Linked DNA regions of Homo sapiens: region 2 is linked to region 1. A link means that fine-mapping ties the variant in region 1 to the expression of a gene that starts in the linked region. Tissue or cell type: whole blood. Region 1 holds a variant in brackets; the other region holds the start of a gene. All regions are shown on one strand. Distances are from middle to middle.

The links. PIP is the estimated chance that this variant, and not a neighbour inherited with it, causes the effect.
Region 2: it holds the start of VGLL4, and the variant in region 1 is fine-mapped to the expression of VGLL4 in whole blood (INTERVAL, PIP above 0.99). The same link has a PIP of 0.9 or more in platelets.

What each region holds. Positions count from the first base shown.
Region 1 is chr3:11,704,066-11,706,973 of GRCh38, forward strand. It overlaps a transcript of VGLL4 not described here. Among named protein-coding and RNA genes, the nearest start is that of VGLL4, 62 kb to the left of the region's middle. RefSeq lists a silencer at 1,130-1,424. The variant G/A (reference allele first, on the strand shown) is at 1,198.
Region 2 is chr3:11,642,802-11,645,709 of GRCh38, forward strand. VGLL4 (vestigial like family member 4) reads right to left here and starts at 1,114. Exons shown (of 5, transcript NM_001128219.3): 1 at 636-1,114. The coding sequence starts at 717. RefSeq lists enhancers at 1-67, 1,258-1,337.

The DNA of each region.
Region 1 (2,908 bases):
AAACCCCATCTCTATTAAAATTACAAAAAATTAGGTCGGGCGTGGTGGCTCACGCCTGTAATCCCAGCACTTTGGGAGGCCGAGGCGGGCAGGTAACCTGAGGTCGGGAGTTTGAGACCAGCCTGAACAACATGGAGAAAACCCATCTCTACTACAAATACAAAAAAATTAGCCGGGTATGGTGGCCCATGCTTGTAATCCCAGCTACTCAAGAGGCTCAGGCAGGAAGATCGCTTGTACCCGGGAGGCAGAGGTTGCGGTGAGCCGAGATCGAGCCATTGCACTCCAGCCTGGGCAACAAAAGGGAAACTCCGTCTCAAAAAAAAAAAAAAAAAAAAAAGAAAAAAAGAAAAGAAAAGAAAGAAACATAGATCCCTGATCATGCAATATGACTTCATTCAGTAAACGTTAAATATCTACAAGGAGCTCCAGGCGGGAAAAATAAACAAAGCCCAGTAGCTGCCTTCGAGGAGCTTTCAATCTGCACGGGAGGCAGGCCACCGAGACATCTAGTTTAAGGCAGCATTCTTCCAAAGCATTCTGCACTGGGTGTTCATATTTTGTAAGAAAAAAACGTTTTTCTATGGTAAATAAGTTTGAGGAAGCCTGGAGTAAACCAAGCTAAGCAGCGTATTTTCCTCCCCGTGCCTTTAATCTCCCGTTGTGGGGACAGAAAGCCCTGTACACGCGAAACCTCGTAGACGTCATGAGCCATTTTCAACCCAAAACGCATCTCAGGGAACATCTGGGGAAAATACTGGGTTAGGGCAAAATGTGCAAAGCGTCAAAACAGTGCTAGAAACAAAGTCCTACAGAAATAACAGATGAATTCTGAAAGGCTTTGTGAAGAAAACAGAACTTGAGCGGAGGCTTTGAAGAACGAATATAAAAGTTCCTCCCCCAGAAGGGAAGAACAGAAGCAGAATCGGTTTAACAACACGCTGCCCAAATCGCCTACAAGAGTAAAATGGGGACAGAAAGTAAGCGACAAGGTTGGAAATTTAGATTGGGACCACATCGTGAAAGGACTGAGGGCTTCGATGGGACCGCGGCTTGACACGCATTAAGGAGCCACTGAAAACTCCATCTAAGCAGAAAAGCGGCTTAGTCATCCATGCGTTCTGGGCAAGTTATCCTGGCCGCACCACGTGGAACGGAGTAGATAGAGCTCGGGAAGCTGAGCGCAGGGCGGACAAC[G/A]GGAAGGCCAGAGCCGTGGGCAAGCACGCGGAGGGCAGCGAGGGGCACTGGCACCGGAGCCGCGGGGAGGCAGGAAAACGCAGAGGCGGAGCTCACTGAGCTTGGCAGGCAGAGAGAGGAGGGGAGGGCCACGGAAGACTAAGAGTGGCAGGGAGGCAACGACCTCCTAACACACGCACATGTCTTCTTTTTCAGAGAGGATGGGTAAAAGCAGCGGTCTAAGAGGGAAAACCTAACAGTGCTCACATTCCTGATCTTCTTTGTAAAAACAGAAAAGACCATCTCCTAAGAGGAAGGATTTGTGAACTTGTTCAACAATGGAGAAAACCAACAAGAACTTGGAACTGACTAACAGAAAAAAGTCTGCTGAACTCCCAAGAACTAGGTAATATTCTCTTCACCCAAGCCAGCTTCCTATTCAGGAAAGATCTGGGTTTAAAGTCTTGTGATTTGGTCGAGACCATCCTGGCTAACACAGTGAAACCCCGTCTCTACTAAAAACACAAAAAATTAGCCAGGCGCGGTGGCGGGCACCGTAGTCCCAGCTACTGGGGAGGCTGAGGCAGGAGAATGGCATGAACCCGCGAGGCGGAGCTTGCAGTGAGCTGAGATCGCGCCACTGCACTCCAGCCTGGGCGACAGAGCGAGACTCCGTCTCAAAAAAAAAAAAAAAAAGATCTTGTGATTTGGGGTAGTAACTGCTGATAAGCATCCTACTTTGCAATAATACAGCATTTAGACTCATAATTCTCTAAATTAATTTTACCCCATTAAGTTGAAGGACAATGCTTTCAAAATTCTAGACCTAAATAGATTAATACATACCTTAGGTTATATAAAGTATGCACAGAAACAAAATATCAAAGCATAAAAGTATCAAATGACATAAGGTAGACCCAGAATTCTAGCATAGCGGAATATTAGACATTTAAGTTTATACAGATGCTATGAAATCCTAAACCCCCAAGCAACTTACATTCAAAGTAGGTAGATAAGATAATGGGTATTAAAGGTTCATCCACAAGGCACCTGCCATCTGCTGCAACCTTATTAATGAAATCAACCAATGTTTATTACACAATTATTCTAAGCTCAGCAAAGTGCCCAGAAAAGGTTAAGGAGAAACAGAAGATAGATCTCTGCTTTCAAGGAGTCACGCTCTTGTTCGGAAACTAAATTTTATAAGATAGGATAATGACAGGCAAAATCAAAAAGAGGATAAACAAAGACTAAATATTATTTAAAACTAAAATGGGTACAGTGTCATAAAAGAGATCAATGTCAGCTAACGTGTTTGCCTTGTGCACATCTATTTTTTGTTTGGGGGTGGTTTGTGGATGCGTGTGTGTTTCAAAAAGCCACTTGGAAAATTTCCTTCCCCGGTTGCCCTGCCCCAGGCAGTCACTCTCCTCTCTGGCCTCCCTCACCTTCCTGGATCGCACTGTGTTTCTGTATACTTCCTAGGTGCAAGGACCCTGTCTTATCCCCAGTGCAGTCATCCTGAGTCAACAACAGTCTGAGAAAAGGCACAGGGGCAGGAATGAGCACCTGGGACAGGTGGCCAGACCTGACTAGCTAGAACTGAAAATCCACGTTAGGAAGCAGCAGAAGCTAAATTCAGGTGAGCCTGATGCGGGTGGCCTTAGGAAAGAGCTGACAGCTGGCCTTCAGGTTGATACTTAATGTCACAGGCAACAGGCAGTTGTCATCA
Region 2 (2,908 bases), 61 kb before region 1:
TCGCTCCCACAGGGAGCGGAGCGCGAGGAACACCCCCCAGTGTCAGCGCTCCCCGGGCTGCACAGGAAGCGCCAGCGAGACAAAGAGCCCGCCTGTGCTCGCTGACACGGTGCCCTTCCGGCCCCACGCGGGAGAGGGACATTCTCCGCTGTTTGGGACGCTCACTCGCGAGCACAAAAACTCGCTGTAACTTTGGCTCCCCCTCCGTGAGCTGCAGGGCGCCGTGGCCCACAGCAGGGTACAGTAGACGGTGCAATCCTTACCAGCCCCTCCCCCAAAGAGGCTCAACTTTTACCGGCGTCCTACAAGTCCTTCCCCTAAAGACAATATTAACGGAAATCAAAAATACATACATTTTAAAGAGTTAAAAATGTGAGGCGCGAGTACGTTGCAAGCAACGAGCAAACTTTGAAGGGTTTCTACTTCACTGCCTCCCCGTCCAGCCCCCTCCACCGCCCCCCGCAGCCTGAGATCCGAACACACTCGGTGCCGAACCGAACCTAAGAAACGCCGGCCTTTCAAGTGCCCTACACCCCGGAGGAGGACAGCGGGCGCTTAGAAGGCAGGCACCCAGCACACTGAGGAGGAGTGGCCGGGACGAGCAACGGGCAGTAATTCTACAACGGGACATCTACCTTCGTAGCACAGAATGCCGATATTGTTGTTCATCTTGTCCAAGTACTGATAGTTCAACAGGTCCATCTTCATAAATAGCATTTATTGGGCTAGCAAAGAAAACCAGCTCTTTGCTTTTGCCCCAAAAGAGTTAAGTTTCAAAAATCAATTGTTGCTGAGTAGCTCCTGGCTCTTCAACTTCACAAAGGCAGAGGCCCAGCCTCAGACTATCAAAACAAAGTATGCAAAAGTTAAAAAAAAAAAAATCAGGCACAAAAAAATCGAGCTCACACGAAACCCTTCAAGGGCTTACTGGTAGACGGTGTATGTACTGTATCCCCGATCGAGTATGAAAACAGCGTTTCAGAAGTCCTTACAAGTCCTTCCTGGAAATGGAAAAGAGTGAAAAAGAGAAACGCGCAGCCCGTTTCCTAGGACAAAGCGGCGCCGGCCCCTCTCACAGCCCGCTGCAAGCCGGCAGCGCTGACATGAGGGCTATGCTTGGCATGACTCCTATGCCGCCGCTTCCTCTTCCCGCAGGAGGCCGAGCATGCTCACTGCGCCGCGCTGCCGAGGCAGGGAGGGCTTCTGCACAGGATCAGCCTCTCAATGTAGCAAGTGTTGGAAAGAAAGAGAAAGGGGAGGGGGAGAGACTCTAGAGACGGGGCCTTGGCAGAGTGGCTCTTGACAGGAAGCAGCCAAGCCGCTGCAAAACCGTAGGAGGAAAAAAGAAAACCCAGGAAGTTTCTTTTTCAGGAGCTAAGTACAAAGTAAAAAATCCATCATGGAAGCAAACTCCCATGGAATGCAACTTTCGTGAAACTTCATGTTGGGGTTTCGGAAACCCAAAGTGCTAGTGATGCATAAGCCATATATATATATATAGTGTCTTTGTTTCTTTTAAAGATTGTTTTATAATATCCATTTACACTTTAACTGGATATTTAAATTTCTGATGTTAATGTTACATATAGCTTCTTCCATAATCCCCATAACAACTGAGATGGACAGGGCAAGGAGGGTATCACCCTTTCACAGCAGAGGAAACAGGTTCAGATGGATTAAATGACTGGCCCACAGCCCCCAAAATAGTTGACAGAACTACTTTTAAAGTGTTTTTTCCCACCTAATGTTATAATTTTATTTAAAAAAACGAGGGGGCCGGGTGTAGTGGCTCACACCTGTAATCCTAGTCGAAGCAGGCGGATCACTTGAGGTCAAGAGTTCAAGACCAGCCTGGCCAGCATGGTGAAACCCCATCTCTACTAAAAATACATAAATTAGCCTGGTGTGGTAGCGCACGCCTGTAGTCCCAGCTACTCAGGAGGCTGAGGTGGGAGAATTGCTTGAACCTGAGAGGAGGAGGATGCAGTGAGCCAAGATCGTGACACTGCACTCCAGCCTGGGCAACAGAGTGAGACTTTGTCTCAAAAAAAAAAAAAAAAAAGAAAAGAAAAAAAGGAGACAAGGAGAGGAGAAGAGATGGAAGAGTGTTTAAGCAAATAGGGCTATAATATCAAAAATTAAAAGTGTACTTGAAATTATAGAGGGAAAGGGTAAAATTATTTTCATTTGGCATGTATGTCACCCACCTGTGTGTAAGAAGCTAGTGGCATGCAGCTGTACTATTTGCTATTGGAAGAACTTGGGGCTTAAACTTTGATTACCCAGTGCCTAGCACAACCAAGTTCAGGTGCCCAAAAACTGTTTACTGAACGAGTGAACCACTGAATGTTCAGTTTTCAGCACATCAAGAACGTGTTAACAAAATAGAAAAAAAAAAAACAAAAACTAAACATTTGAATTACTATTCTAAAAATATATTTTTAATATTCCAAAATAATATTTGAATAAATAATTTGAAGGAGTTGTATGTTAAAAATCCAGCAATAGGCCAGGCGCGGTGGCTCACGCCTGTAATCCCAGCACTTTGGGAGGCCGAGGCGGGTGGATCATGAGGTCAGGAGATCGAGACCATCCTGGCTAACACGGTGAAACCCCGTCTCTACTAAAAATACAGAAAATTAGCCGGGCGCGGTGGCGGGCGCCTGTAGTCCCAGCTACTCGGGAGGCTGAGGCAGGAGAATGGCGTGAACCCGGGAAGCGGAGCTTGCAGTGAGCCAAGATTGCGCCACTGCAGTCTGCAGTCCGCAGTCCGGCCTGGGCGACAGAGCGAGACTCCGTCTCAAAAAAAAAAAAAAATCCAGCAATAGTTGCATTGGGTTTATTAGGCACACTCATGGCAAGGTGTTCTAATGAAATCTTACTTGGGAGTCCGGATGCGGTGGCTCAC